5 separate regions of the Homo sapiens genome follow, and regions 1, 2, 3 and 5 are each linked to region 4. Evidence: fine-mapped expression QTL. A gene starts in region 4. Each other region holds a variant in brackets. All regions are shown on one strand. Distances are from middle to middle.

Region 1 (6,610 bases), 190 kb after region 4:
TAGCCATTCCTTGTACCACTCAAAAGAATTAATGTACAGCCAGGATCTGCAGCAGCTAGACAGTCATGGCAGGACCATTGTCCAAACTTAATACCTTGCATTTCAGAAAGAGAAATCAGTGTGCTGTTTCTAGTCATTATGCTTTTTAGTCAACTGTTATGTCTTTAATTTTAAATTAACACCTGAAATATGTGTACTACTTTAGAATTGGCAAGATGCTCCTCCCCACTGACCTGTAAGCTCTCTTAGGGTGGGGGGTCCTGTCTGTTTTGCCCACTTTCTTATATCACCACCTGTTGATGCCCAGCACATGATAGATACACAGCACGTGTTGGAAGAATGGGGGAATTGCACACACGTGGCATTTTCATAACAGCTTCGTTAGCAAAATGGGTCTCGTGATCTGTCTGTTTCGCAGAGTAGGCAGTTGTCTGAAAGATAAGCTGAGTTGTGGAAGGTCATACGATTGGTGTAGGGTTAGCCAGGAAATTCCATCTCAAGTGTTCTTTCTGTCACCTCAATAAACTTAAAAGGAATTATCAAGCACTAACGTTACTGATAGTGACATTGGAATGAAATTCAATGGGAGGAGGACATATGCCACCAAAAATAATTGCAGCATGGCCCCTCTGTCACCGTCACTGGCCCTTTGAAAAAGGTTCTGTCACCAAAAATCAGATTCTGGTCCTGCCGCCAGGAGCCACAACTGAGGTCCTTTGAAACTCATCCCACACATCGTTCTGCCATCACCGCGAGGCCTCAGCCGCTTCCATAACGGATGCACACGGAGCCCCTCTCTGACGGCCTCTGCCTCACCTTCTCCGTCTGACCTCCCATTTAAGGAAGAGACTGCGAGGCCGCAGGCGAGCCCTGCATCACCGTACGTCACCGTCCCAGCCCCTGCCTGGTCTGGGCCTCCTCTCAGTGTTCGCATGTGCATGCCTTTACCCTGGCTGCCAGCACCTTCCTCTGCCCAGTCGGGAAAGCACGTGGCTACTGCTTTTGCCAACGGTGTTGGCCGTCAGAGCTGCATGGAGCCAGCGAGCCGGGCCACCCCAGCACCTGTCCCAGCACGGGCTTCTTTGGACACAGGTGTTTGAAAGAGCTGACATCCTCCCACAGACAGATTTTGGATAACATTTTGAAACAGAAAACAAGCAATTGGAAGTGAGTGCTTTATGGGAGTAAAAGTCTTACTTGGACCCAAGAGCCCACGGGACAGGCTGAGGAGGAAGGCGAGGGTGCGGGCGTGCTACTCGGCTGGTCTCTCCCTAGGCCAGTACCCAGCTGTGGCCGGAGTGAAGAGAGAAAGGAAGCGAAATTCTGAACGAGGAAGACCACAGAGATCTTACCGGTTTCCCAGACACGGACACTATCTGGTCTCTAGGCCCTTTGCCCTTCCTCTGTTCCTATCCAGTACTATTCTTTAACCGTTTAAGGACTTCACAAAATAAATATAGCAACCAAACATATAACAAATTATTTTAAATTGAAGTATAAATTTTTTTATGTTTAGTTTTTGTGGGTTCATAGTAGGTGTATACACTTAGCAGTTACAAGAGAGATTTTGATACAGGCTTGCAAATGCGTAATAAATAAATACCACATCATCAGGGCAAATGCGTAATAAATACCACATCAGGGTAAATGGGGCAAAGATGTTTTTTACAACATGAAATTCTTTCATATGGCCATCCTGCATATATTGGCAGGTCAAACTTGTAATAACTAAGCACTTTGGGGTCTTACATATACTGGAGATGTATACGTGTTCTACTTGGAGCACCATATGCCTTGAGCACCTCTGCCATGTGCCTAGTGGCATCCTCCATGTAGTAGGATCTCAATGAATTTATGTTAGTTGAATGAATGAGAACTTTTAGCCATTCCCTTAGAATGAACAATTTCAGCCCAATCGGTAATAAAAAAAAAAAAAAGTACTTGCTCCTGTATTTAATTCAGCGATTAGCTTTTTGGAGAGAGACCATCAATGATTTATTTTTATATTAAAGTTTTTGTTACCAAAAATTATAATACCAGCACAGGCACTGCACTGGGAGGTTATGATGGCAGCTCGCAGAGCTCCGCCTCACTCCGGCCCTTTCCGATGCATCCAGTTGAATGCTGCCTCTTTGAACCTCACTGGCCTGATGTGTGGTTTGACTAGCGGTACCACTTCCTGTCCACACAGGACCACACATTTTTCCCTTCTCTTTTTCCAACATTACCAGTTATTTGTATGAAGCAGTTATTTCGTTTTTTTGTGTGAGGGGAAAGAAGGCAATTATTTCCTTTTTTTCATTCAAAAAGATAAAATCTAGAAATACAAAAGTTCTTTCTTGTCCAAGGTTACGTCTTTGAGCTCCTTATATTATCCATGTGAAACCTGTGCTCGACCCAAAATAGGAAGCTTGATTTTTTTTTT[C/TC]CAAATTTTCTGCCCACAAAAATATGGTTCTTTTGGTTCAAAGGGTCCTGTGCCTTTATTCTTCCCATTCATAGCTTTGTCTTCAGAATTGCATTGAGCAGTTTACACTTCACCTCTTTTACGGGGTGTCTTATTAGTAATGCTTAGGCGGGTGGGTTCTTGCCAGGAAGTGTTTATGATGTCGGGGTCCGAGTGGGAGTTGAGTTCACAGCAGGCTGTCACTGAGCATGTGACACCGCCTGGCTTCACTCTAAGTATAATTTTCTGCTTTTTAGTCAGCACTCTGCCCCCACTCTTTTCTTTTACATTGAGGAATTTCAAAAGTTAAAAACTGCCTTCGCATTTCCAGTCATCCTTGCACCGTAGCACATCGTTAGAGCCCCAAATCCTGACACTTGTTCTTGCAGGAGTGTTGACAGGACCCCGGTTCTCACTGAGGGCAGAGGCTGTGAATTTTTTATTCTGTTCCTTAGAGCATCGAAAATAGCAGCTTACTATTGTGCTTCGATTTTCAGTAAGTATGTATGTTACCTGTGCGTCTACATGAGCTGGTCCTCCATGGCGTGCGGCTTAGAGACCAGACCTGAGCATGTGGATCTCCGCCCCTGGGTGGGGCTGCCCAGAGGGTATGAGCGGCGAGGCCAGGCCCCAGTGCCCCCACAGCAGCGGGAGCAGTCTGGGGACACCGGGGGGTGTGGCTTTCCTCCTGCGGGAAGAAAGCCTCTCTGGTCTCCAGACGAGTTCGTTTATTTCACTTTCACTTACAACAGGCTCTTTCTGTTCTTCTCTCCTGCCTCCTAGATAAGACTTCTTACCTTGCAATTATCCTTTTTCTCAGGAAGAATCCATTAATTTCTGGATTATATTGAATTACTCTTCACTCAGCCATCTCAGCAAAATAGACTTAATAAGCACACTGTTTTTGTTTTGAGGAGCCAATATATATACATAGATAGATATATCTTTTATATAGAGATATATATATCTTTTATAGATATATATATCTTTTATAGATAGATATATCTATCTATATATATCGATATATATAGATATATAATATATAGATATATAATATATATAATATAATATAGATATTATATATAGATATATATAATATATATAGATATATATAATATATAGATATATATAATATATATAGATATATATAATATATAGATATATATAATATATATAGATATATATAATATATATAGATATATATAATATATAGATATATATAATATATATAGATATATATAATATATAGATATATATAATATATATAGATATATATAATATATATATATAGATATATATAATATATAGATATATATAATATATATAGATATATATAATATATATAGATATATATAATATATAGATATATATAATATATATAGATATATATAATATATAGATATATATAATATATATAGATATATATAATATATATAGATATATATAATATATATATAATATATATAGATATATATAATATATAGATATATATAATATATATAGATATATATAATATATATAGATATATATAATATATATAGATATATATAATATATATATCTTTTGAGGAGCCAATAGATATATAGATATATAGATATATATAGATATGTATATCTATATGTCTCTATATATATCTCGATATATACCTATGCCCTTGATATTGATCTGTATATGAAATTGGCTCCTCAAAAGAAAAACCGTGTCCTTATTTGTATACCGTAGTGTGTGACACAATCAAAACCTAGTTCTATATTTGGAATATGCAAATGCCCGTTCAAAAGGTTGATTATAGTTCTTGATCTCTATCTCAACTTTCCCAACTAACCAGTAGCGTGGATGAGACTCTGGGAGAATATTTTCCTTAATGTTGTTACTGGGAACATCCATGCTTTTACAGTGCAGCATTTTCCCTGTTCTATAGAGGAGATGTTCTCAGTGTGTGCAGCTCTAGAAGGCATCTGGAATCTCCCACTTCAAGGGAAAGGAATTGTTTTGGAAACACAATAAAACAGTATTTTGTTTTTATGGGGTTTTTTTCCTGCAAAATGATGATAATGAAAGCTCTTAGTGAACGCTGTGAATGCCAGGACCTATGGCATGCATCCCCCTTCATCCTCACTGCAGCCCCCCAAGGGTGGGACAATTATTATTCTCCTGTGACAGATGAGAAAACTGAGGCTCACAGCCTTCTTGCCAAAAGTCACAACTAGCAGCTGTCGAAACTGGGGTTTGGTCCCCAATAGTCAGACCTCAGACCCCACATTCTTAAATCCTGTGTGTTTCTGCTTTTGAGCAAAGTGAGGCTCATTGAACTTGTACCTAAAATCTGATGTTTTATTTTGTCCAGGCTTTAACTTGCTTACAGAATCAAATTCAGTTTTATAAGGAGTTTCTCCTAAAAGTGATTCCTTAAGACAAAAATGGTCCTTCTGCTCAATAACTTGACTTTCACCTTTGGTAGTAAGATGCTATAATTGATATTTAATGTGCATTTTATAAGCATTGTTAAACACCCTCTGTATTTTGTGTTACTGCTTATACTGAGTGTGTGTGTGTGTTTTACAGTATATATGTTTTACCGTATATGTTTTACAGTGTGTATATGTTTTACAGTATATATAGATACTTATCTATATATATTCTCTGTGTGTGTGTGCGTGAAGAAACTGAAGAACATTCTTAAATTTTCATTTTGAGGCCGACTGAGAGCCAGTTATAGAGAACATAAACAGTGACAGAAATGAAAAACAATAAAAGAAAACTTCTCATTTCTTTTTTTTTCTTTTTGACCTGTATGGAAATACTCCTTTCACCATTTGATTCTCAAAAGGAAATAGTGGTGGTGTTACTTTCTGTTTCTCCTCAGAAAACTCTAAAGCATGGGGTACAGCCTGCCAGCAGGGGAGGGGAGCTTGTGTTATTATTAATGCCTTCTTTCTCTCCTTTATTTCAATTTCAGGTGTCAGAAACTATTTAAAAGAAGCACTGGTGAATATAATTGCCGTGCATGCAGAGGTAAAGTATCATTAGATGTTCCTAAGAGATATGGATAACCAAAAAAAAGAAAAAAGAAAGATGTAAATTTGATTATTTCTATGGTGGTCTTTTTTTTCCCTCAGAATGTGTCTTGGGTATAAATAAGATACAGTTCAGCTCTTGCTCGCACTGTCTGTCTCTCTCTGTCTCTGTGTGTGTGTGTGTGTGTGTGTGTGTGTGTGTGTGTGTGTGTTTAACTGTGAGTCTTTCTCTGAAATTGTATGTTTTCTTTGATAATTCCAGCTAAATTCATAAATATTTGAAAGGTGAAGATAGATTGCAAGGATGTTTATCCTTCAAAGAATAGTAAATCCCTTATCTTGGAAAATGAATTAACCTCTTTTTAGCCTGTGTACAAATAAGCACTGGTATCTGATTCCTGTAGCAGTGGCTGGGATTCCAGAAAGGCAGACACTGCTTAGAAAGAGACTCGGGGCAGGCCGACACTGGAACAGATGCGTGGTTTCCTGTCCGTGGTTGACTTAGGGTCATGCAGACAGTATTGGTGCTTCTGGGCCATGCGAAAACTTGCTCTCACTTGACACGCTTTCATCTTAAGCTTTGTGTTAACATCCTCAGTGAACATCCTGGTTAGGAGGACTCTTCTGAGGAACATTGAAAGAAGAGACCAGAGCTACCACCATGATCTATGGCTGCCTGTTTTCATTCAGTCATTTCAGGATTTGTTACTCACTGCTTTGCCAACACTTTGAGAGTGGCTGTGGCTCACAGACTAATGGGGGACCAGATAAAGTGGGGCAGATCAAAGAGGCTACCATTCAGTCGTTTCCACCGTTGCCCAGGTGCCTCTTGGGCGACAAGCATCCAAGAAGGGTGTTTTTAGGTTTATGCCGCCTGCTGCATCCAAAAGTATCTGAGGCCATCAAGGTAAACTGAAAAAACATGGTTAATTAAGAGTGAAACCCGAATATGACCAGGGAAGACAAAGATAACACTACCTGGTTCCTAAATTTGGCTAGAAGTTTGAAGCGCCAAGAGCAGAAAGAAAACTATAGAACGTTACAGTTTCCAGTTCTTATGAAAGGGAAACATACAAATTCATCTCTAACAATAGAGTTTTTATATGATTTAACTCAGGCAGGAAGTCACCACATAGATCTTTTTATAAGG
Region 2 (6,610 bases), 74 kb after region 4:
GGCATGGGGTGCAGATAAATAAAGTGAGAAAAACTTCCAAAGGTGAAAGGATTTTCTTACTAAGTAAAGTATGAGAACCAGCATGAAGAATCCAAACCAAAATAAACTTCTAAAAACTCAAAGTTCTCCACCTCCCTCCCAGAGACTGCTGACCGGTGAAAAGGACCAGCAAGTAATGAATGCCACATGCATGTATCGGGAGGATTCAGACTATAAATCTTTTAACTCGTGAAGCTAGTGAGAAAAGATGCACGATCGACTCAGTCTCGGTGGAAGTGGTGCCACCTCCCAAAATCTCATCTGTCTTCTTTTCTGTTATCATCATTCTAAGCAAGGCATCCCCCACCCAGTCAAAAAAGGAACATAGTGAAGAAGGACAGTGTTACCGAATGTGAATGGGACGCCCTGTCCTGGCTGAGATGCTCACGCAGTAGGCATTAGACTTTGGAGTGAGTGGCGTCTCGCTGTGCAGGGTTGATAGAGGAACTCCTCGAGATCTGGTTTTGCAGCTCACATTCCCTGTTCTTCTAGGGACCACAGAGGGAGAGGATGTGTAGAGAGGCAAGGAGGGTTTGTGCAGAGATATCTGTGGGGAGAGCTGGGGTAGGCCATGAAGTGGGAGGATGCAGAGCATGTGACCGTCTTCACTGAGGCCTGGTGAGTGGGACCTCCAGGTGACAGTGTTCCCTGCAGCTGTGAGACACAGAGCCTGCATGGACAGTAGAGGTGGCTGCATTTTAGGGGTGTTCTCCATGTCCAGGTGTGCAAGCACCTTGCTAGAGAGAGTGGGCTCCAGGCCATTGGAAGTTGTGCCTATGGGCACTGGTCACCTGAACGTGGAGGGGCTCCAGCAGGGAGTGTCTGCGGTAAGACTGAGACCACTGGAGGCTGAGGAGTGGCAATAGGAAGCAGATGCATCCATGAGTCATGGCTGGAGGAGTCCTCCAGAGCCCTTTAGGGAACCCGTGAAAATGCCCCCAAGACTCAAGTAGGTTCGAATACCTGGCAGGCAGAGAGCACAGACCACCTATGGCAGTACCAGGCACAGGCCCCGAAGGACATTCCATTCTTGTCTCTCTGTCCATCCCACCCTTAACCTCTACGAGAGAGCTGCCATTTTTCCCCCAAACGAGTAAGCAGCCTATTAACTATTGACCTTGGCTGGGAAGAGGGAAGAAAAAAATGTTACCTTTGGGTGAAGTTGGAGTGTGGATCACGAACTAAGCTGCCTAATTTCTGAATTGAGGCTGTGTTTGTAATGAGGAGACAGCAAGACTCTCCCAGAGAATACCAAAGTCATCGGACCTACCCACATTAAAATTCTTTTGGGGTAGGAGTGTTTTCCCCACTGCGTAACTGTTAAAGAGATACTACCCTATCAAATGATCTGTGTCTGGTTTATACCTTATGAGTTGGGCTTGTCCAGTGTTTTGGGGTAGGGGACACATCTTAGAGGGGGCGGCAAATCAGACGAACAAAGTAAACCCCAAGATGGTGGAGACCAACATGCGAGACAGTATAGTCCCTTTGAGGCTGCCGAAGCGTCAGGTTTCATGCCTAGAGTGGCAGAAATGAGCCCTGAGGGACAAGCAGATTCAGTTCATAGACATGCTTGGATTTCATCCTGCAAATGGGGCAGGGGGCGCCAGCAAAGGCTGCCACGTTGTGAGCCTCGGTGGGTACATCTGGCATCCCAGCATGGAACCTGATCTATTGTCGATACTTGATTAATAGTCGAACGAATATATAAATGAATTGATCCAGAAGTCAGTCTTAAACATGTAGGCAAGATGAGGGAGCAGCAGATTATGTATATACCCTGTTGTTATCACAAGCTTTTCTTAAAGTCATTCTAGACATGGACGCAAATGTGAGTGCTTTGTGATTAGATGTGGTTTTATTAGTACTTTGATGATTTCTTAGTATGTCTTAAAACAACTTTCATCTAGGTTTTAACAAAAATCATTTTAACAAAGTGATTTAATATTTTAGAATTTCACTGTATTCAAATTTTGATTTTTATACATTGAATGGGGATTGATGTCATATTTTGATAGGTTTAATAAAACTGTCAACTCAGCCAGATGTCTTAATCCTCTTTAAACCTTATATTCTTTTATTGATGTAATTTCTGTATTTCAACTAGTTTCCTATCTTTTCTATATAAAATCAAAGTTTAAGTGATAGAAAAATCAGCCATGATGTGGGAAATATATTTTGTACATATATACAAACATGTTCTGGGTAATGTATGATTAATATGTATTGTTGTAATGGTTAGTATTCATATGTGTTATACTGGATACTTAGTGATACCTTTTCCATTTTTGTCATAATAACCATTGAAATATATTTTAAACGTTTTTTCCCCTCAGAAGTAAATTTTCGCAGAAGGACTTAGAAATGCTATTCCATGGAATGAGTGCTGATTTTACAAGTGAGAATTTCTCAGCAGCCTGGTATCTTATAGAGAATCACTCAAACACCAGGTTAGTGGATATGGGACTGTCAACTGTGAAGGGTTTCACTCAGATGCTAAAGATGGAATTACACGGTAACTCGAGTTTTAGGTCTGGCTCTGCATACAGTTACATGGTTTTAGGTCTGCGAGCTCTTTGACTTTGCGTTTACCCGTGAACATCTCAGGGTGTCTGTTTCCCTGTTTGTGCAATGGGATGATTCTTTAGAGGTCTCTCATTTCCTACTGTCATTTTATGTTCAATATATTTCATTATTGATGCAGGTTATTAAAAATTTATGGAGCCTTAGCTGGGGACTTAAACTGACATGTATGAATGTGATCTCTCCCTACTCAAATAACATAAAAATTTTAAGTTCTGGGGTAAAACATGGAACACACTGCCTTCTCTGACCATAGGGCAAAGGAAGATGAGTTGGTTTATCATCATGTAAGGACCTGGCTTAAAATTAGCAAAAAAGTAGACAAGGTCATATATCCAATTTGAAGGTTCCCTTCTGTCTTCTAATTACATTTTACTCTGTACAAGAGCAAGTTTGTAGCTTATTTGCAAGATTGATTTAAAATAATTATATTCAGCAAAAAATGTTTGGATAAATCAATGGTTTATTGCTTAAAACTTAAATTATTGATAAATTAGTGTGTTAAAATATACCTTAATATAAATGTTTCATTCATTTATTAGGGTGAAAAGCATTACTAGAAAACATCAGGAAAAGTTGGCATTTTAATACACAGGATAAATTTAACCTGATTGCTTTTTAAAGCAAATGTCCAAGATGAGGAAAGGTTGGCATTTTAATACATAGGGTAAATTTAACCTGATTGCTTTTTAAAGCAAATGTCCAAGATGAATTTTTTCATTGTAGAAGATGATTCTGATTTTACATTACAGATGTAGAATTTCTATTATTATAAGTCAGAATTGAGCTCTGTTTCTTGTGTAGGTCTATCAAGAATACGTTTAAAGTTTTATAGCCGGATTTTCTTAGCTCAAATGGACATAAAACTTCTGAAATACAGAGGCCTGTCTTTAGTTTTCTCTGCTTTAGATATTGAGATGAGATATTGTGGTCTTCCTAGTTATTTAAGTTGTGAATCGACCCACAGGATTCATGTAATTTTATGACTAAGGACAGAGGACTGGATACTG[A/G]TAAGTATAACATTATGCTTAGTGTTCCACAATGCTTCAGTGAATGTACAAAGCAGTTCCATCTTTGAAATGTTGTCTATCACTGGATGATCTGTGTCTTCTTACCTAGTACAGGATGTTCAAAACTCTTTATCTGGTAAATTGTATATATTATATATAGGTTATAAAAACATCTACACATTTACTTCTTAGGGGTCTAATGTATTTGGAATTACCATCGAGGGCTCCGAAAGTCTTGTAGCTGTTGTAATTTAGGCATTCATAATAAATAAAAGGTTTAGATCTACGCAACAATTTGAAAGCTTTTTGATTTCATCTGGCTTCGTATGATATTAATCTGTGTGCTACTTAGCATCGGTTTTAGCATATTTAGTGTTCTCCACTGAAGGAATTATTTTTTCTTTCTTGCATGTTAGAAGTGTCAAACTTTGGTTTCTTTATTTCATTTCAGTTTTGAGCAGCTCAAAATGGCAGTCACCAACCTAAAGAGACAGGCTAACAAGAAGAGTGAGGGCAGCCTGGCCTATGTGAAAGGCGGTCTCAGTACATTCTTCGAAGCACAGGATGCCCTCTCAGGTAAGGCGATCCTCAGAGCCATCTGCTGGCAGCTTCCGCCATGGAAACCCGGCACTGCCTGCAGGGTGTTTACAGGGTGTGACACTCGGTCTGTTTTTATCAAAGTAGAGATCTCAAATGTGCTATAAATATTTGTTGCAGAGTAGGCTGGCATCTCTTTGAAGACTTGGTACTTTAAAAATTTATCTCTGAGGCTTTTGTTAACCCATCTTACATGTGTGAAATGGGAGACTACTTTAACTCTCTGTGATGTCCACACTCCAGGGCTGATACGAAATTAAATCCCAATGCACAACCACCAATATCTTACATATGTGACTAATTCTATAAATGCAACCCATTGTGTGTTCACTTTGGAAAGGCTGATGATAGGATACCAGTCTCTTCAGCCCTTATCGCACAGGCGCCCACGTATGCACGCAGGTAGCTGTCACTGTGCCATCTGTGTATGGGAGGGACGTTGTATGGAGTACAGATGTCATAGCTTTAGACATTTTAATGCAAGATGTTGGTAGAGTTTTTTTTTTATAAAACTGCTTTTAATTAATGAAAGTTTAATTATTGCTATTTAGTAAAAAGTAATCTATATCAATAAAAGTTAACTCAATTCTTTTTAATAGCTAAGATACTTAAAACTAAATACCCATATAGCTTAAGTATCCATAACTCTAACCATGCATTGAGGCCACATCTTCTTCAATTCAGGAAGGTAAATTTTAAAAATTATTTTTATTCCTAAAGTATAGACATTCTTTTATTATTTTAAAAGTCCCCCTCCTCCCTCTCTACTAAAAATACAAAAAATTAGCCAGGCGTAGTGCATACCTGTAGTCCTAGCTCCTTGGGAGGCTGAGGCTGGAGAATTGCTTGAGCGTGGGAGGCGGAGGTTGCAGTGAGCCGAGATCGCGCCACTGCACTCCAGCCTGGTGACAGAGCGAGACCCCATCTCTAAATAAATTAAATAAATAAATAAATAAATAAGCCCCCCTCTTCCTGTGCCATATATACTTAATTGACCTCCAACACATTAAATGTGTATGTGATGCAGTGTATGTGATGCAGCTTCTTCCTTGCAGGTAGAAGTTAGTTTTTTTTTTTTTTTTTTTTTGAGACGGAGTTTCGCTCTGTCGCCCAGGCGGGAGTGCTGTGGCGCGATCTCAGCTCACTGCAAGCTCCGCCTCCCGGGTTCACGCCATTCTCCTGCCTCAGCCTCCCGAGGAGCTGGGACTACAGGCGCCCGCCACTGCGCCCGGCTAATTTTTTGTATTTTTAGTAGAGACGGGGTTTCACCGTGTTAGCCAGGATGGTCTCGATCTCCTGACCTCGTGATCCGCCCGCCTCGGCCTCCCAAAGTGCTGGGATTACAGGCGTGAGCCACCGCGCCCGGCAGAAGTTAGGTTTTTGAAGGGGTAAAATGTGAATGTCTAAGAGGGAACAGAGAAGGTAGGTGCTCTTCCTGATAAATATGTGTGCCTTATGTTTCTTGATGGTGTGCCATTCTTTATTTGTGCTTATTGCTCTTCTCTCTAAATTACCACTGACAGCACATAGAGCAACACAGAGAGATCCACTATTGTCAGTGGACTATGTAGACTAGGAATTACATGGTTCAAATTTGACAGAGCTGATATGTAAAGTTGCTCGGGTAAGTTGTTTTTACTTTTCTGTTATGAAAATTTTGAAATGTGAAAAGTGGAGATGAAAGTATAATCTCCCAAGTAAGGGCAAGGACATTTATGTGCATAATCACAATGATATTATCATAGTTAACCAAATTGGCAATAATTGTTTAATATCATCTCATTCCCAGTTCAGATTTCTCAAATTATCCCCAAACTTTATTTTTATAGGTGATATGTCCAAATCAAGATTCAAATAAAATTCAGGCATTTCACTTAATTTTTAAATCTCTTAAGCCTCTTTTAAACTAAAACCATCCCCTCACCTTTCTTACCCTGTTTCTGGTTTTTCTTTTTTTTTTTTTTTCTTTTGAGATGGAGTCTCACTCTGTTGCCCAGGCTGGAGTGCGGTGGTGCGATTTCAGCTTACTGCAACCTCTGCCTCCTGGGTTCACATGATTCTCCTGCCTCAGCCTCCCAAGTAGCTGGGATTACAGGTGCCCACCACCACGCCCAGCTAATTTCCACGCCCAGCCTGTTTCTGGTTTTTCATGCTATTGATTTGTTGAAGAAACAAGGTCATTTGTCCTGGAAGATATCCCCCACTCTGAATTTGACTGATGACTTCCTTGTGGTGTCATTTAACTTATTTTTCTTGCCATTAAATTGCTTGGACTCATCTAATTGGATATTAGATAAGATTCACTTTCAACACTTTTAGGCATGGATAGTGCTGTGCTTCCTGTTTCATCACACCAGGCAGGAGTGCATTCGTGTCTGGGG
Region 3 (6,610 bases), 170 kb after region 4:
AGTGTGAAATGGTGTCATATTCGCATGTAACCTATGCACATCCTCCTGTATGCTTTAAATCATTTCTAGATTACTTATAACACCTAATACAATGCCCGTGCTTTGTGAATAGTTGTTAAACTGTATCATTTAGGGAGTCATGACAAGGAAGAAAGTTTGTATATGCTCAGTACAGATGCAGCCATCTGGGTCCCCCACCCCGGAATATTTTCCATTCATGGTTGGTTGAATCCACAGATGCAGAAGCCACTGTTGTGGAGGCCACAGATGCAGAGGCCACAGATGCAGAGGGCCAGCAGTACTCCCTGTGCTTGCTATGAGTTACTTCCCTCTCCACGGGCTCCCCCAGGCAGCAGGCAGGCTGGGTGCTTCGTGCACTGTGAACCCTGTGCCTAGTCCCTCTCACCTCTGCCCCTCTCCTAACCTCTCCTGCCCTTCCGGGCCCTGTGTCCTCTGGGAGCTCACCCAGCCCATCCCCTGCATGTCTCCAGGTCGCATTGGCCTACCTCCATTCGTGATGCTCCCAGAGCAGCTCTTGCCACTCTCTGTGCCCGCGGGAAATGTTTTGTCGTTATCTAGCTCCTTGCTGGACAGTCTCAGCACAAGGCCGTCATTTGGGTGTCTTGTTCTCAGAGTTTTTAGCATAGTGCAGTCTGTGACACTCAGCTGATGCTGTGTGTGTGTTTGTGGAGTAAATGAAGATTGGCATTTTCTATAATAATATACCATCTCTCTAAATGTGCCAGTTGCTCCTTCTCTTCTAAGTGTTTGCCATATGCTTTTGCCTGATTTTTCTCAAAATTTTCTCAGTAGGAAAGTACATTATACAGTGTTCTAGCTTCCACTGTTCTTCTGATTTGCTTTTTAATAAACAGTACACGGTGGATATTCATATTTGCTGAATGGGAATGAGTGAGAGTGCTCATTTTCTTGTCCTTTGTGAATTCTCATATGGTAGTTGCATAGACTTGCTAAATTTGAGCAGCTGCGTTTCAATTAAAATGCGACTGTCAAGTGTATCTAACACATCAGCACGTCTGTCTGTTTAACTATTTAAACTCTTACCGAACAATGTATTACCTTGCACCATGCAAAAAGTAATACATTTTTCGGTAATAGTTAAAATGAATTTTGTTAAAGTTCGTATCTTCCCCTGTGATTAGCATGTAACGACATTAACTGTTCACACATCTAACACATCAGCAATTCTATCTGTTTAGTTATGTAAACTATTACTGAACAATGTATTACTTTGCATCACCATGCAAAAAGTAATACATTGTTCAGTAATAGTTTAAATGAATTTTGTCAAAGTTCATATCTTTTCCTGTGATTCACATGTAAGTACGTTAACTGTTCACTCTGAAATCATGCTTATCTTAATTGGTTATGTTCAAGGCTATTAAATCACTTGTGATATTTCTTTGAGAATAGAAAAAAATCATGACACAGCCCCTCTGAGTTTCCTGCGCTTCAGTGATGACTATAAAAATTTAGAATGGGCCACCGAGTTTCACTCTCAACAAAGTGATTCTTCTCTGTCGTCACTGAAATCTCCGATTGTTACCGAGAAAGAGGATTTATTTGCCCCTGATGCAGAAGAAGACTTTTCTTTGCCAGCCCTCTCTCAGACCTGCTGCCTCCGTTAACAAACAGCGAGGCATCTTTAGTGTATGCCGAACACCGGCAGGGGCAGTCGAGAATGTCTGTCAGGTGAAAGGCAGGTCTTTCCCATCCACCCGCTCCAAGGTGTCTTCGGAAAACAGACATCTATGAAGGCCCATTCCCTGAAGGGCGGCGTTAGGTCACAGGACTTCAAGTGCAGGGGCTGCTGGCCATTATCACGAGGCTGTGAATCGTGTGGCAGCACTTGAGTGAGCAGTAACCAGGGCGCGGGGGGGGGTAAAAGGCAGGC[G/A]ATGCCGGGCTAACGGGGATCTTAGGGTTCTTCTGCATCCGGCTAGTTACCACCACTTGGAATTTCAAAGTCCTCACTGGATTTATCTTAGGGTTCTTCTGCATCCGGCTAGTTACCACCACTTGGAATTTCAAAGTCCTCACTGGATTTATCTTAGGGTTCTTCTGCATCCAGCTAGTTACCACCACTTGGAATTTCAAAGTCCTCACTGGATTTATTTAAGGTACCCAGAATCCTGTCTCTGTGACCTTCATATTTTCCAGCCATGACATTGAACTAGACAAGCCTCGGTTGTGAATTAGGATCAGAGCCTAAATGTAATCCTGAGGTTGATCTTAATAAGAGTCTGTAACCTCAGATAATCTTCACTACAAAATTAAGATTCTTCTGGCTGTGTGACATTAAGTGGTGAGGCTTTTTTTTTTAACATAGCTTCGTTTATTGGTTTTGTTTTTTTCCTGACAAACTTTCTTTCATAAGCAAATGGCACATGGCACCATACTACCAGCAATTTATTTACTCTTCCTCAGATTCCAAAAACATGTAGAAGTCATCGGTGCTCGTTTCACTTTTATAAACTCTATTTAGTTCTGTTCTTTGTGTAGTTTTGACTTCATGATTACTAACTGAACCTCAGCCTTGCATAGTCATATAGTGATTTTTAGTTTGTTTAAAGCTGACTTAAGTTGAGACCTTGTGTAAAGTGAGCAGCCAAAATAGTTTGACTATTAATCTTCCAAAATAATTTCAATTAACAACTTTAGTATTATCTTCAGAGTTTACTTCTTCAGAAACTGAATTTTGCAAATCATGTAGGTAACTGATTACTTATTGCTGTAGTTACCAATAAATTTAGTTTCCGATACTGTATGTAGTGATTAAAAAAAAAAATCCAGTTGATTAATTTCATGATTCAACAAGAGATATCCGTTAAAGCCGTAGCGATGTTTTTTTAAATCTTACCGTTGGGTATTTAAATTGTTGTCACCTCTTTATTTGTGTATATGTCAGTAAAGATTATTCTAGTTAGTTCTGAGTCACAAAACTGCTGTTAAGATTTTAATTGTTCTGTTATCTGCAATTATTAAGAGTTCTTAGTATTTGAATTTTATAAATTTTAAATAAGAATACTGTTGGTCTTTACTTACAAATACACATTGAAGTTCACGTCTTTGAAACATTAAATAAGAAAAAAGTATTATTTAAGTTTTCTGTTAAATACTGGTTTTATTTTTTCTATCAAAAAGTCATAAAAATTTAAATTAATGTATATTATTTAAAGTTATTTACTAAGTGAATCTAAACTTAATCATTTTCTATAGGTAAATAGTGAACTTATTTTTGATTCAAATGTGCTTATACTAATTATAGTAATTGAAATTATAATGGGAAAGGGAAAACTTTATATAATTTGTGACATGAGTATGTCTAGGACCATTCTAAAAATAACAGCAGAGTTGGTTGCTTCCATGTATGATGCATATAACCTAGAGTAGGGTAACCTCCTGCCCGTCAGTGGTGTGCCAGAGCACAGGCTTGGGGTGCACAGTCCATCAGTGAGCGAAACTTGTAAGTGTGTTGTCCAGGCAGTGTGCCAAGCAGCATATTCCAACAAATTGAAGAGAAAGAAAATGTAAGTCTAATTATGGAGACAGAGGCAGAAGCACAGCTCTTCTCAAGTCTATGTTTGTTGAATTTTATTTTAAGATCTCTGCCTTTTGGAATGTATCTTGCAGATGTTTTCACTGAATTTTACAAGAGACATTGCACAATTAGGTTATCTCTTGCATCCTGTAACTTAAATCATTCAAAGCTCAGGTCCAGCGTAGAATTTCTAGAGAATAAGAAAAATGCTACAAGAATGGAGATAAGGAGAAATTGTAATTTTTGTTTGATTTTCAAAAAATGGAAAACTGCAGACAGACCTCAAAGTTTAATGTAGCTCTCTGAGAAAATGGACCATTAAAATGTTTTCAGGTCCTTATAAAATAAGTTGTATGTTACATGTATATGTGAATTTATACATATATTCCTTATACATGCATTTATATACACACATTACTAGGTACCCATGTTTAGTAACGTAGTCAGCATTTATTGCATATATACCATGTGCAAGGCAGAGGGCTTTGCATAAATCACCTGATTTAATCTATATAACAGCACCTCAAGGAGTAAGCAGTATTTTTATTCTCATTTTATAGATGAAGCCACTGAGCACAAAGAAGTTAAGTGACTTGCTCAAGTTCATGTAGCTAGGAAATGGTGAGGTAGGGGTTCCGAGTTCAAATCCAGGCAGCCCTTAATTTTAGGCATTGTGCTGTGTTGCTAGACAATAAACAGCCTCCATTAGAAATCCACGAAGAGCCGGGCGCGGTGGCTCACTCCTGTAATCCCGGCATTTTGGGAGGCTGAGGCGGGCGGATCACCTGAGGTCGGGAGTTCAAGACCAGCCTGACCAAAATGGAGAAACCCCATCTCTACTAAAAATATAAAATTAACCGGGCACGGTGGTGCATTCCTGTCATCCCAGCTACTCGGAAGGTTGAGGCAGGAGAATCGCTTGAACCCAGGAGGCAGAGGTTGCCGTGAGCCGAGATTACGCCATTGCACTCCAGCCTGGGCAACAAGAGCGAAACTCTGTCTCAAAAAAAAAAAAAAAAAAAAAAAAATCCACAAAGAAAAAGGCAGATGTGCTGGTAGAATAGACACAAGTTCATGAAATTCACAAAATAACTAATATGGCCAATAAATATAAGAATAGGATAAAATTCATCAATTCTCAAAGAATGTAATTTAAAATACCATTAGGGTATCATTTTATTAAAACCCTCTGGATTGACAGATACTGTAAAGCTTGATAATACCTGCTTTTTGGCAAAGGTACAGAGAAAAAAACTATTCCGTCATCTTTCTAGGAGTGTAAATTGGCCCATCTATACACATACGTGTGTGTGCGTGTGTGTGTATGCACACATTTATATGTATAGAATTTACTTAGAAATTTTGTGTCTAAGAATTTGTCTTAAGGAAAGTTTTACAGAAGTAAGTAAAGAATTATGTACAGTGATGTTTATTGAAACATTTTTTAATATATGTAGAATCTGAAAAACTAAATGCCCATCAGTAGTGAATTGGTTAGATAATTTGTTATATATCTAAACAAATATTATACTTTCTTTATAATGGATGAGATGGATAGATGGATAAGTAAATGCATACCTATATGTGGGGGACTGTACATATATTGGTAGAAAATGTTGATTAAGGAGACATGCATTCATTCTTTCCTCATTTTTATTGAAAAAGACAATGTATCTATTTCATATGTACAATTTGACATGTATACACATATCTTGAAAGGGGATAAGAAGGAGCATGCTAGAAAACTTTAATTTTCTACTTTAAAATTTTGTTTTTAAAAATATTGGGGCAGAATAGATGTATTTTTATTTTAAAAAAAGAAATTTCTATATTTTAAAGAAATGAAAAACTTCATGGAGACAGCATACCCACAAAGAACAGGCACATGCAGTACTAACTTGTTTTCTTCTTGGACACACACTTGATTTGATAGAGAAATGGCATACATGGTGAATTTAGGTTTCTGCAAGTCATTTGACAGTTTTTCCTGATATTTTCAGGAGTCCTAGTTGCTGACTTATTGCCATCATGTCTTCATGTCAGTCTAGAGGAAAGCCTCTAGTCATTGCAAGAACACTCATTGAACAATGTTCAACATTTTATTAGACATTTGAAAATGGAATAAATTCCACTTTGGGTAAATTTGTGAAGAAAAACCTAGTAAAGTTAGCTTAGTAGTAGCACTATCTTACACTTAGAAAGTTTTTACAATGCCTTTATGTAAGCCTGTGATGGAACTATCCTAAAATTAATGATAAAATGTAGCATGCTTTCTTAATTAGAACTACCACAGAATAAAAAGTGCAAGCTTCAGAGGAATTTTGGTTTCAGTAATAGAGGAAGAACTTATCAGACTAACCGTTCCACAGTTAAAAATTGAACTCTGCACAGAATATAGAAACCCAGCTGTGAGAAGCACTGGAGAGCCGTCAAAAGCCGACAGACTGGAGGGGGCGCTTGAACCCTTGCAGGAGGGGAGCTTGCACCAGCCAGATCTGAGGGCCATCCACGACTGCAGCAGGTGCCCAGCACTCCTGCAGAAGGCACAGAGGGATGCAGCCAAAGAAACACTCGATGGAAACTTGAATCTAAAGGAAGGAATAAAAAGAATCAGAAATGGTTGATATGTGGGAAAATAGAAAAGACAAACTTTTTGGGTTTTGACTTTTGATTTTTTAAAAGATGATTAAATATAGAAAAATTTCTATATTTATTAAGTTGAATTCACAATCAAAGACCTTTCTTTGTGGAAAATTCCAAGTCCAAATGGTTTTACTGATAAGTTCTATGTAACATTTAAGGAATAAATAATACCAATTTTATACAAACTTTATCAGAAAATATAATAGGAAGCATATTCAATCTTATTTTATGAAACCTGCATAACCCCAAATCAAAAATGTGACAAGAACATTACAAGGAGAGAAAATTACAGACTAGCGTCCCTCATGAACGTTGGAACAAAAAATTGTAACAATTATTTTTAGCAGATCAAAGCACTATTGTCCATGCAGTGGAACACTAATTCATTATGACTAAGTAGGGCTTCTT
Region 4 (6,610 bases):
ACCCCTTCTCAGTCCTCCCTCGTCCCCACCCCCTGCTCACAGATGATCTTGTTGGTTCCTTTGTTAACACAGAAGCAACCAGAAGAGTATTTTCTCACTTTCTCCTCACCATGTCTACCAACCCACAGCTATAGCTTCACATTCCGCTCACTCTCCTACTACACAGCTCAACTCTGGTGGCTCCTAAGAACAACCTCTGCCCTCGTGCAACAGGTCCTACCCTCTCTTACCTTTCTCAAAGACTTGCTCTGCAGTTGCTCCCTCTCTCCTGCATCAGCGGTTCCCTCTTTACATGTTTTGTTAATAGCTCCCATCTTAAAACAGACTTTTTCCTTGATACCATGCCTCTCTAGCAACTACCGCCCATCTCTGCTCCCTTTGTCACACAACTCCTCAGAGGGGTTGTCAAAGTAGCCAGATGAAAATACAGAACATCCAGTTAAATGTGAATTTCAGATAGTAACAATTTAGTATACGTATGTCCCGTGCAATATTGGGGCCGTACTTTTACTAACAAATACTAAAACTGTGTCTGGAATTGGTAAGTTCTTGGTCTCACTGACTTCAAGAATGAAGCCGCGGACCCTTGCGGTATGTGTTACAGTTCCTAAAGGCGGCGTATCTGGAGTTTGCTCCTTCTGATGTTCAGATGTGTTCGGAGTTTCTTCCTTCTGGTAGGGTCGTGATCTCGCTGGTTCAGGAGTGAAGCTAGAGACCTTCGCGGCGAGAGTTACAGCTCATAGAGGCAGTGTGGACCCAAAGTATAAACAGCAGCCAGATTTACCCCAAAGAGCAAAAAAATAAAACTTCCACAGTGTGGAAAGAAACCGGAGCAAACTACCACTGCCAGCTCGGGCAGGCTGCGTTTATTCTCTTATCTGGCCCCCACCCACATCCTGCTGATGATTGGTCCATTTTACAGAGAGCCGATTGGTCCATTTTACAGAGAGCTGATCGGTCCATTTTGACAGGGTGCTGATTGGTGCGTTTACAATCCCTGAGCTGGACACAAAAGTTCTCCACCTCCCCACGAGATTAGCTAGACACAGATTTTGGACACAAAGGTTCTCCAAGTCCCCACCAGAGTAGCTAGATACAGAGTGTCGATTGGTGCATTCACAAACCCTGAGCTAGACACAGGGTGCGGACTGGTGTGTTTACAAACCTTGAGCTAGATACAGTGTGCCGATTGGTGTATTTATAATCCCTGGGCTAGACATAAAGGTTCTCCAAGTCCCCACCAGACTCAGGAACCCAGCTGGCTTCACCCAGTGGATCCCGACCGGGGCCGCAGGTGGAGCCGCCTGCCAGTCCCGAGCCATGCGCCCACACTCCTCAGCCCTTGGGTGGTCGATGGGACTGGGGGCCGTGAAGCAGGGGGCAGCGCTCGTCGGGGAGGCTCGGGCGCACGGAAGCCCATGGCGGGGGGGGTTGGCTCAGGCACTGCAGGCTGCAGGTCCCCAGCCCTGCCCCGCGGGAAGGCAGCTAAGGCCCGGGGAGAAATTGAGCACAGCAGCTGCTGGCCCAGGTGCTAAGCCCCTCACTGCCCAGGGCCGGCGGGTTGGCTGGCCGCTCCGAGTGCCGGCCCGCTGAGCCCACGCCCACCCAGAACTCGCGCTGGCCCGCAAGTGCCGCACGCAGCCCGGGTTCCCACCAGCGCCTCTCCCTCCACACCTCCCCACAAGCTGAGGGAGCCGGCTCCGGCCTTGGCCAGCCTAGAAAGGGGCTCCCACAGTGCAGCGGTGGGCTGAAGGGCTCCTCAAGCACAGCCAGAGTGGGTGCCAAGGCCGAGGAGGTGCCCAGAGCGAGCGAGGGCTGTGAGGGCTGCCAGCACGCTGTCACCTCTCAAAACAATGTTTTAGTAGAAGTATATCCCATGCAACATTAGTTTAGTGATAAATATATCTATACTACAAATTACTTGTTGTTTATCTGAAATTAAACTTTACTGGGTATTTGTATTTTTATTGCTAAATCTGCCAACCTAGGTTGTTGAAACTTACTTTTTTCCACTTCACTTAATATTCTTTTCACAGTCCACTCTGACGAGATGTAGCTTCCCCACACTCCTTTGAAACTGCTTTTGTCAAGGATGCCAATGACTGGCATATGCCAAACTCAATTGTCTCTGGAGTCTTGGCCTCACAGTACTTCTGAACATTGGCTATCAATTCCTCCTTCCTGAAACTATTTAGCTTCCAGAATCCGCTACCCCCACTTTCCTGATTGTCCTTCCTCCCTGGCCATAGCCCCTGAACCCGAGCTTCCCCCAACCTAGAGCATCCCCTGACCCTAAGTATCCCCCCAACCCTGAGAACCCCCTGACCCCGAGTATCCCCCGACCTCGAGAACTCCCCGACCCCGAGCATCCCCCCAACCCCCAGCATCCCACGACCCCGGGCATCTCCCCCGATCCTGCGCATCCCCTGACCTGGTATGGCGCCCTGACCCAGTGCAGCCCTCAAACCCCTGCAGCCCCCTGACCCCATGCATCCTCCTGACCTAGGGCTGCCCCTGACTCAATGTTGCCCCCGGACCCCAGTGCCTCCTCCTGACCTGAGGCACGCCCCCCAACCTGGTACAGTCCCCTGATTCCAGTGCATCCTTCTGACCCAGTGCTGCCTCCTAACCTGGTGCATCCTCCTTACCCAGTGTGGCCCCCTGGGGATGCACACTCCAGTGCATCCTCCTGACCTGATGCTTCCTCTGGTCTCGGTGCAGCCCCCCTGACCTGGTGCAGCCCTCTGATTCCATGCATTCTCTTGACCTTGTGCATCCCCCTGTTCCGGAGGGGTCCTCTGACCCGATGCAGGGCCCATCGTTGTGAACTGTGGCCCACAAACGCACTATCATCCCACAGTCTCCCTGAGATGACCCGAGGGCACGGGGATGGATGGTGCACCCGGCCTGCCCCTTGAGCTTGTATCCTTCTTTCCCTCCCTCACCGCTTCCCGCCACCGCAAAGACGCCCAGCAAAAACCTCCTACTCGTGTCCATTCAGGCAGCTGGGTCCCTCGGAACCCAAGGCATTCCAGCGTCCACCGCCCACGGCCCCTGCTGACCTCCAGCACCCGCGCCGGTCTCCTCCCCTCCTCTACCCTCCCCTGAAGGCTCCGCCCATCGAGGACTCGGCGCTCGACTGCCAGGCGGATCTACACGCTCGGCGCTCGCGGCGGGCGGAAGTGAGGTGCCGGCGGCTGGCGGCCGCGGAGTCTTCGGCGAGACCTACCGGGCCCTGTCTGTGCCGGCCGTGAGCTGCGGCAGGACGGCTGGAGGTATGTGTGGGAGGCTGGAGGGCCTGGCCGAAGGCCAGCGGGACATGGACGTCAGCTGCACGGAGGTGGCCGCCTGCGGCGTCCGTCCAGGCCTCAGCGGTGAAGGGACAGCCGCGCCCACTGGCGCCGTCGGTCACCTGCGGGGCCCCGCGACCCCCCGCGGTTCCCAGCCCCGCAGCCCCCATCCCCGCCGTCAGCCGCCTGCTGGGCTCCGCGCCCACCCCCGCCAGTTCGCACCCCCGCGGTCCCCACCTGCGCCGGTGAGGGGCGTGGGCTGCAGAGGGCTGACTCCAGGCCCCGCCCGCTGGAGCTGGCCCCAGACTGCGCCGCTTCGCCCTTGCGCAGTTGCCACTCCGTGAGATTTGAGAATTTCTCCGGAAAAGTGAACGCGAGGCGGGTGTTACCTGTCTGCCTAGGCGTGCATCCCGCTCTGGCTGTCCTGAGCGCTTAAAAGGCGCCTGCCGCTGTTGTCAGCGTTTGCGTGCACGTACTTGATCCTCGCGCGGGTGTATGTACGCTGCCGTGTGACCCATTTTACGGATAGGGGAGCGGCGGCTCAGAGTGCTTGAGCAAAGAGCCTGAGGTCCTGTTGTAGCTGCCATTGAGACCTTGCGCGCCGGCTCCAGGTCCGCACACCAGCAGCCTGGAAGCCTGGTGATGCGTAACCCTGTATCCCAAGATTGTTAAGAAAACACTTTAGTAATTCCGAGAAATAGTTCTTGAAAGAACTCGTCTTTGAATGGAAGTAAGTTATTTTTAATCTGCCAAAGGTCAACATACTAATAAGTCTGAGAAATTTTAAGTCTGATGCCTTTATGAATCTGTGAGTAAACTTACAAGGAACACTTAAAAAATATTTTTTCTAAGTTAGCCACACTTTAATTAAATCTTTTTGTGTGCACTATGCAATATTGAAAAGTTACTTCTGAGCTTATGTGGATCTGTCTTCTAATGCATAATAATGTTTTGTTTATGAATGTTAGTATGTACTGGCCCATGCTTTGTGTAACTGACTCCTTTAATGACAAATCAACTGAAAGCCAGAATCTTCTCAAAGATGATTTTTTTGTGCTAAAAGTTGGCGATTCCCAGAGTAGTAATAGAAAGAGGGTGATGTGTGCTTAGTACTTACATGTTCACTTGTTTGTCTAAGTAGAAACTTAATAAATTAAAGCAGAGAAGCAGAGTTCCCCCAGTGTGACTTGGACCAACTCTTGGAAGTTTTAGAAAGTGATCTTTTTTTCTTGTCAAGTATTTAATTTCCTGTATTGAATGCCATTTTGAACTACAGTTGACCCTTGAACAACACTGGGGTTAGGGGTGCCCACGCAGTCAAAAATTTCCATGTAACTTTTGACTTTCCCAGGACTTTACTAATAGCCTACTGTTGACCAGAAGCCTTACTGATACATAAACAGTTGACTTACATGTATTTTGTATGTTATACGTATTATATACTGTATTCTTAAAGTAAGCTGAGAGAGGAAAATGTTAAAATCACAACAAATGTATTTACTCTTCTTTAAATGAAAGTGGAGAATCATGAAGGTTATTATCCCCATAGTCTGCATGAGTAGATTGTGGAGGAGGAAGAAGAGGAGGGATTTTCTCAGGAATGGCAGAGATGGAAGAGATGGAGGAAGTGAAAGGGGAGTGGGAGATGCAGGCACACTCAGTGCAACTTTTGTTGAAAAAATCCGTGTATAAGTGGATCTGTCTCATTCAAACCCATGTTGCTTAAGGGTCAACTGTATTACTTTTCTAAAAGATGGTTATTAACTTGCTAAGTTCTTGGGAGCCCATTATGTAAGAATCATATGGGAAATGAAGTTGGTACTGAAAAAATAGTCTTCTAGCAAAGAACTTTTAATATTTCTAGTGTCAAGCAGCAGCAAGATTAGGCCATACAGGAAGTGCTGGTTACAGAGGTGTCCTCTCAGTTACTTTTCCACTCATTCTCCAGTTTACGCATCTTAATCCAGCCTGGGTTCCTAGTCCAGCGTCTGCCACATAGTAGGTGCTTAAATGTTTATTGAATGGATGAATTTTAGGTCACTGTTGAGAGGATTTTGAAACTGGGAAATAACATTCATTGATCACTCTGCTAAGCGGTGTACTAGGATGTTGATTGTACTCAGATCCTGGGGAATATGTTCTTGGACCTTCTGGACTGCCTGCTGAAATCACATGGTGATAGTGTGGACTTCTAATCATATGCTTTAGAGTATGTTTATATTAGTCAAAAATTATTATTGATATGAATACACAAACTTAAAAGTAATTGTAATGAAATTATGAATCTTTTTTGTATTTTTAAAGACAGAGTCTCACCCTGTTGCCTAGGCTGAAGTACAGTGGCGAGATCTCTGCTCAGTGCAAGCTCTGCCTCCCGGGTTCACGCCATTCTGCCGCCTCAGCCTCCCAAGTAGCTGGGACTACAGGCGCCCGTCACCACGCCCGACTAACTTTTTGTATTTTTAGTAGAGACGGGGTTTCACCGTCGCGATCCTCGTGACGGTGGACCTCGTGATCCACCCACCTCGGCCTCCCAGAGTGCTGGGATTACAGGCGTGAACCCCTGCGCCGGGCCGGGAAATTATGAATCTTAAAGCGATGGGTGACACACGCATCGGCATCCTTCAATCTCAGTTTGTTTATTGATTGAAAGGGGGTCTTGTTCTGTCACCCAGGCTAGAGTGCAGTGGCACAGTCACAACACACTGCAGCCTTGAGCGCCATGATTCCAGAAATCCTTCTACCTCAGCCTCCCAAGTAGCTGGGACTATAGGTGCGTGCCACCGGGTTCGGCTCATTTTAAAAATTATTTGTGGAGGTGAGGTCTTCCTACGTTGCCCAGGCTGGTCTTGAACTCCTGAATGCAAGTGATGCGCTGGCCTCAGCTTCCCAGTGCTGGGACTATAGGTGTGACCCACTGTGCCTGGCTGATCTCAATTTGAAAATCACAGAGTCAAAAGGTATTTTTGGCTTAGGCGTCAAAGCAACTATACACTGGTCCTTGGTCTAATCTGGTCTGCTTCATAGTACTGGCTGAGTTGCTTAGATGCTTTGGACTGTTTCCTTTTTTGTGTATTCAGAGAATACATGCAGTTAGATTATCTCTGAAATCCTTCCTGCCTTGAAATTTTCCAACTCAGTGAATCCTATAACCACCTAGCACTTGTCTTATAGCACTTGTGTTGTGTTAGGGACAATATTATTAATGGTGTTTACATACACCAGTAAAAGACTAAGCTCATTCTGGATCGGGATTAGTTTTAATTATTTTTGTATCTTCCAGTCTTACTGTATGCCTGACACATATATTAAAAATCAAA
Region 5 (6,610 bases), 160 kb after region 4:
GGAGCACTGGCTGGCATCAGTGCCGGTGCGTGAGATGGAAATGTTGTTGAGTATATACATGATTGCTGCTAAGGTGGCAGGGCGCTGGCTTATTGGGAGTATTGTCCATTACACCAGAATTCTGCCTCCAGCATACGCCTTTTACTTCTGTAAGTTATTACCCACAGTTTTTTAATGCTTCGAAAGACCCTCCTCAGTGCTAATATGTACGAATTCAGTGAGTAAGTCTATTTCTGAATACAGATATTCCTGAACTTATGATGGGGCTACCTCCAGATAAACCCTTCCAAAATTGAAAATATCGTAAGCGCATTTTCTACTTATGATATTTTCTTTTTTTTTTTTTTCTTCAGACAGAGTCTTGCTCTGTCACCCAGGCTGTAGTGCAGTGGTGTGATCTTGGCTCACTGCAACCTCCGCCTCCCGGGTTCAAGCAATTCCTGCCTCAACCTCCCTAGTAGCTGGGATTACAGGCACCTGTCACCACAGCCGGCTAATTTTCGTATTTTTAGTAGAGACAGGGTTTCACCATCTTGGCCAGGCTGGTCTTGAACTCCTGACCCCGTGATCCACCCGCCTCAGCCTCCCAGCGTGCTAGGATTATAGGCGTGAGCCACTGTGCCCGGCCAGATATTTTCTACTTACAGTGGGTTTAACCTGACGTAGCACATCATAAGCCAGGGAACATACTGAATGCGCATTGCTTTTACACCCTGGTAAAGTGGGAAAATCATGAGTTGAACTCTCATAAGTTGGGACTGTCTGTACACAATTAAATTGTTATCTTTTTTAAAGGAGGCACTGTGTTTTTGTTAGAGACACCTGCCCTAAAAGGCCACTGGACCCTCAGGCATGTCTACTCTGCTGCCTTTCTCACCCCCATCAGTGACCCTTTAGCGCTCCGTCTCTGTTTAACCACTGCATTCCTTAAACACATCACTTTATAAGACTGATTTCCTTAGTGTCAGGATGTTTTTAAAGTTAATCTTTCTTCCTCACTCTCAGATAGCGATTAATGGTAGATGGATCTGACCCTTGCTTTTTGAGCAGGAATCAAGCAGACCCAGTTTTCTATGTTCAGCAGCCAGTGTGAACAGGGTGTTAGTGAAAATGAGGCTGTTGAGTTAATAGAAATAGCTGCTAGCATTTATTATGTATTTGCTTTCAGTGTGCTATGCAAGTTTCCTGAATTATCTGTTTAAATCCTTACAACAAAAAGTATGAGCTGTGTACTCCTGACATTGATCCTGCCTCATCACACATTAATACTGCCATTCTACTCTCTTTTTGTAGCATTTGCCTATTAACTGTTTGCACATCTATTTATTTTCAACTCCTCTTTTCCCTTCTTTTTTTAAAAAATGAGGTGTAATTTACCTACAGTAAAAGACACAAATCTTAAGCTTATGGATTGATGGCTTTTTACATATGCACACGTTCCAGCATCCACCACCAGATGAAAATACAAAACCTTCCCTTGTGCCCTGTTTGAGTAGGCTCCCTTCTCAGCAACGTTCCAGCTGCTATCTGCAGAGAATCATTTTGCCTGTCCCAGAACTTTACGTGGAGTTCCATGCAGTTTGTTGTCTTTTGTATCTGGCTTCTTTTGCTCCAAATTAATTTTTTGAGATTCATCCAGTTGTGTGTACCAGTGAGTCATTTTCTTTTATTGCTGAGTTTGGATAACCAGATTTTGTTTAATCATTCTCATGGTGATGGACATGGGGTTGTCTCCAGTTTTAGGCCTTTATGGATAAAGTTGTGGTGAATATTCCTGTAAGTCTCTTTGTGGATGTTTGTACTCACTGATCTTGGATATAAACCTTGAAGTACAATAGCTGGTCGTGGCACAAGCTGATTAGGAACTCTGAGTAGTTTTCCAGAGTGTACACTCCATCGGTCATCAACTCGAGTGTACGCTCCGTCGGTCATCATCTTGAGTGTACGCTCCGTCGGCCATCAACTCGAGTGTACGCTCCGTCGGCCGTCACCTCATGTGTACGCTCCGTCGGTCATGAACTCGAGTGTACGCTCCGTCGGCCATCAACTCGAGTGTGCGCTCCGTCGGCCGTCAACTCGAGTGTACGCTCCGTCGGCCGTCATCTCGTGTGTGCGCTCCGTCGGCTGTCAACTCGAGTGTACGCTCCGTCGGCCGTCATCTCGTGTGTGCCCTCCGTCGGCCGTCATCTCGTGTGTGCGCTCCGTCGGTCGTCATCTCGAGTGTACGCTCCGTCGGTCGTCAACTCAAGTGTACGCTCCGTCGGTCATAAACTCGGTTATAAACTGCATCCTAGCCAACACTTAATATTACCAATCTTGTTTATTTCAGCCAGTCTCATTGTTGCTTTATTTGGTTTTCCCTAACAATGATGTTAAGCACCTTTTCTTGTATATTCAGATACATTCAGGTAGCTTCTTTCTTGAAGTGCTGTTTAACCCCAGCTCATTTTTAAATTGGATCAGTCATCTTTCTATTGACGATTTTTAGAAGGCTCTAAATAAGTCCTTTGTCATGCATACATATTTTTTCAGTTCATGGCTTGCTGTTTTGTTTTTATAATATCTTTTGAACAGAATTGTTTAATTTTGATGAGATCCATTGTATCAAGCTTTTAAAATGTTTAATGCCTTTCATATGTTGTCAGAATCTTTACCTGCTTCAATGTCCTGAATATTTTTTCCCAGAAGTTTTGTAATGTTAACTTTTATGTTTAGGTCTATGATGTCTATCCTTATGCCAATATTGCATTGTTTTATTTATTATAGGTTTATAGTCAGTCTTGATATCAAGTAGTATGAGTCTTCCAACTTTGTTCTTTTTAAATTGTTTGGGCTATTTTAGGTCCTTTCCATTTATATATAAATTTTAGCCTGTGAATTTTTACCAAGAAAAGGCCTTTTAGGGGTTCATTGAATTTGGAGAAAATTACCAATATTGATGATCCTATTTATTTGTTTAGGCCATCTTTAATTTCTTTCAGCAGTGTTTTGTAGTTTCCATTAGAGATTTTCCATGTCTTTTGTTAAGTTTATTCCTAGGTATTTTATTTTTTATGGTATTGTATTATAATCCTTCGATGTCTATTATATAGAAATATAATTGATTTTTGTTATTGACTCTGCTGCCTCCATAAATTTACTTATTCCATTAGTATGTCAACCTGCTTAGAATTTCTAAATACGTAATGATGTCTTCTGTTAATAAAAACAGTTTTACTTCTTCTTTTTTGGTATTATTTCTTGCCAGATCTCATGGACTAGGACCTCTGGTATAATCTTGAAATAGTGGTGAAAGGGGACAACTTTGCCTTATTCCTGATCTTCTGGAGAAAGCACTCTATATTTGTACCATTTTGTAGATGCCCTTTACACAGCTGATTTTCTTTCTAGTCTTAGTTTACTGAGAATTTTTGTCATGAAAGTATATTGAATTTTCTCAAGTGCTTTTTCATCTGTTGAAAAAATACCACTTCTGCATGATATGTTTTTAAAATTTATTTATAGTTTCTATTTGCCAATAGTTTGTTTGGGTTTTTATGTCTTTGTTCATGAAGGCTATTGGCGTGTGATTTTTTTCTTACAATATCTTGCTCAGTTTGGATATTAGGGTTATACTGGCTTCATTAAACAAAATAGGAAATGCTTTCAGCCTCTATTCTATGAAAATGTTTGTGTGTGCTATAATTTCTTCCTTACATGCTTGGTAGAGTCACAAATGAAACCACCTGGACCTGAAGTTCTCATTGTCAAGTCCTTGTCTATAATGGATTCAATTAGTTTAATAAATATAGGACTACTTGTGCCAGTTTTTGAAGGTTGTGTTTTTCAGCAGATTAGCAATTTCCTCTATGTTGTCAAGACTTGATGGCATAAAACTGTAATGTCCTTTTACTATCCTTTTAATGTCTTCAGGATCTATAGGAATGTTTCTTTTTTCATTTCTGTTCTTGGCAATATGTGGGTTTTTTTCTTTATTTCTTCATCAGTCTTGCCCAGGAGCTTATCGTTTCTGTTGTTATTCCTTTTTAATTTTTAAAAAATTTCAAATTTTTTAAGAGACAGGGTCTTGCTCTGTTACCTAGATTGGAGTACGGTAGTTGAATCATACCACGCTGCAGCCTCGATCTCCTGGGCTAAAGTCATTCTCTCACCATAGCCCCCAAGTAGCTGGGACCACAGATGCGCACCACCATGCCTGGCTAATCATTTTTATTATTATTTCCAAAGATCCTACTTTTGGCATTGGTGGTTTTCTTTAATATTTACCTTTTTAAGATATTGATTTCTGTTCTTTATCTTTTCCTTCTATTTTCTTTGGGTTTAATTTTCTCTTTTTCTAGATACTTGGGGCAGAAAATTAGAGCAGTGATTTAAGTTTTTCTCCTTTTAAACTTTTCTTTTAAAACATTTTCAGCTATAAATTTCTAGCCACTGGTTCTCTCTTGCAGATTTTGATATGTTATCTCTTCATTGTGTGTTATTAGTATTTCCCTTTTGGATGCCTCCTTCCTTTGAAGAAATCTTACTTCACACTTGTATTTCACATGTCCAGGGAGTCTCTAATCATCTATTTCGGTTTGTGTTTATAGATACTAGAGAAAGAGAGAGATAAAGAAGGGCGAGAGGGAACTCAGAGTTATTGCCTGTCACTGTTTTCCTCAGTAGTTCATCTTCTTCGTTCTGATGTGTTTGATTTTAGGTTAGAGCCCTTTCTCATTACATGGGTGAAATACTCCTTGAACCCTTGCATATCCAAAAATATCTTTCTCGGACTCTGTTAAGAGAATGACACGCTGGCTAAATACAGGATTCTTGGGTTCTGTTCTTTCATTCCTGTAGATTTTAATCCAGTGATTTCAGCTCCCAGTACTGCATGTGAGAAATCTGACGTC[A/G]GACCAGTTCTTTCTTCTTTGTAAGTAAATTATTGTTTTGATCTAGAAGCTTGAAAGTCAGTCTGTCTCTGTCTCTCTCTCTCTCTCTCTCTCTGTCTCTCTCTCATTTAGAGTAAATGTATTAGAAACTAGAAACTTTAACAGTAGTTGCCTAGATATGTGGGCTGTCTTACCAGTCTAGCCTGGCACTCTGCAAGCCTACTCAAGTTGCAAACTTGGGTCTTTCTTTAGATCCAGTTAAATTTTCTCCTACTGCTTGTTTAATGAATACCTTTTCTCTATCTGCTTGTATTTCTTTACTTGAATTTCTATTTTTTGCATGTTAGAGCTCCTGGGTTTATCTTCTAGTCTTGTTGTTCATAGTTTTCATGTCTTTACACTTTTACTCTATGTTTTGAAGTAGTTCTTGCACTTCAGATCAGTCTCAACAGTGACCAGGAGTTCCTTGTGTTAATCTACTCATTTGTTAGCTTTGGAAGTTGTATGTTTCACCTCTGGAAATCTTGTTTTGTATTATACTTTAATCGTCATGAGGGTTTTCTTTCTTTTTTCTGTTCAAGTTGTTGCTTGTCTCTTCTGCAGCTGAGTTTCACTGCTTGGTGGATGTGCCTGTGCATAGCAGCGGACTCCCTTAGACGTGTGTTTATTTTTCACTGTAGTTCGTTGCAGCTCAGGCCTGGCATTGGAGAGAAGCCTATCCCTCTCAGGCCAGTGCTGCAGAAGCAGAACGGCCACCAGCCCCCTGCAGGGTGACCTGGGCCCACAGACTCTCCACACCCCAGACTTCCCATATCCTCCATGCTTGGGTCTCTGCCTCCCCCCTCTTCTTCTTCTGGCCTCCTGCCTGCTGGTGAGACAAGGCACACTCACGTAGGGCTGATGCCAGCCTCCTTACCCTCTTCTGCTCCCACTCCCATCGGGAGCCCCCACAGTCCATGCAGCTGAACTGTGCCAAGGACAGGACTTACTGATAGGGGTCTTTCCTGTTCCTTTTTGCCCATGACAGCGAGCGTGTGTCTGGCCTCCCTGTGGAGTTGCCTTAGACTCGAAGGCCTGACCTGCACGCCCCTCAAGCAGAGCTGTAACTGGAGGGAGAATCCAGGGGAGCCACACTGGGGTTACTGGAGTGTCAGAGCAGGCTTATTTTCTATTGGTCACACTTTTCAAATGAATTAGTTAATATGAAGAAACAGAACATGATTTTAAATGGTTCCTTTTTAATTGTAGTTTACTGGCTATTACAATTTAGTATTTATAATGCCTCTTGCTCTGTGTACAGAAATGAGTGGTTAGTATTTTCAAAAATGAATGATATGGTTAGGCTTTCTGTCCCTACCCAAATCTCCTCTTGATTTGTAATCCCCATAATCCCCACGTGTCAAGGGAGAGACCAGGTGGAGGTCATTGAATCGTAGTGGCCGTTTCCCCCATGCTCTTCTCATGATAGTAAGTTCTAATGGGATCTAATGGTTTTATAAGGGGCTCTCTTCCCCTTCCACTGGGTACTTCTCCTTCTGGCCACCTTCTCCTTCTTCTTGTGAAGAAGATGCCTTGCTTCCCCTTTGCCTTCCACCAAGACTGTAAGTTTCCTGAGGGCTCCCCAGCCATGCATAACATAATTGAGTCAATTAAACTTCTTTCTTTTATAAATTACCTAATCTTGGGCAGTTCTTTATAGCAGTATGAGAACGGACTAATACAATGACCTGTAGTCCATA

Alleles and levels. Positions count from the first base shown, and alleles are read on the strand shown. Sizes are in standard deviations (SD) of each study's normalised expression. Not every link is listed here.
With allele TC in place of C in region 1, the expression in CD4 T cells of the gene that starts at base 3,155 in region 4 is higher (large effect, 0.78 SD a copy in CEDAR).

What was found. PIP is the estimated chance that this variant, and not a neighbour inherited with it, causes the effect.
Region 1: its variant is fine-mapped to the expression of EXOC2 in CD4 T cells (CEDAR, PIP 0.95).
Region 2: its variant is fine-mapped to the expression of EXOC2 in prefrontal cortex (CommonMind, PIP 0.95).
Region 3: its variant is fine-mapped to the expression of EXOC2 in atrial appendage (GTEx, PIP above 0.99).
Region 5: its variant is fine-mapped to the expression of EXOC2 in whole blood (INTERVAL, PIP above 0.99).

Annotation. Positions count from the first base shown.
Region 1 is chr6:498,493-505,102 of GRCh38, reverse strand. EXOC2 (exocyst complex component 2) reads left to right here. Exons shown (of 28, transcript NM_018303.6): 24 at 5,403-5,458. Among named protein-coding and RNA genes, the nearest start is that of IRF4, 110 kb to the right of the region's middle. The variant C/TC (reference allele first, on the strand shown) is at 2,426.
Region 2 is chr6:615,309-621,918 of GRCh38, reverse strand. EXOC2 (exocyst complex component 2) reads left to right here. Exons shown (of 28, transcript NM_018303.6): 5 at 2,376-2,489; 6 at 4,084-4,208. Among named protein-coding and RNA genes, the nearest start is that of HUS1B, 38 kb to the left of the region's middle. The variant A/G (reference allele first, on the strand shown) is at 3,633.
Region 3 is chr6:524,410-531,019 of GRCh38, reverse strand. The region is part of intron 23 of EXOC2 (exocyst complex component 2); the gene reads left to right. Among named protein-coding and RNA genes, the nearest start is that of HUS1B, 130 kb to the left of the region's middle. The variant G/A (reference allele first, on the strand shown) is at 1,916.
Region 4 is chr6:689,684-696,293 of GRCh38, reverse strand. EXOC2 (exocyst complex component 2) reads left to right here and starts at 3,155. Exons shown (of 28, transcript NM_018303.6): 1 at 3,155-3,275. RefSeq lists enhancers at 1,004-1,512, 2,942-3,828 and silencers at 3,396-3,455, 3,466-3,535.
Region 5 is chr6:532,810-539,419 of GRCh38, reverse strand. The region is part of intron 22 of EXOC2 (exocyst complex component 2); the gene reads left to right. Among named protein-coding and RNA genes, the nearest start is that of HUS1B, 120 kb to the left of the region's middle. The variant A/G (reference allele first, on the strand shown) is at 4,893.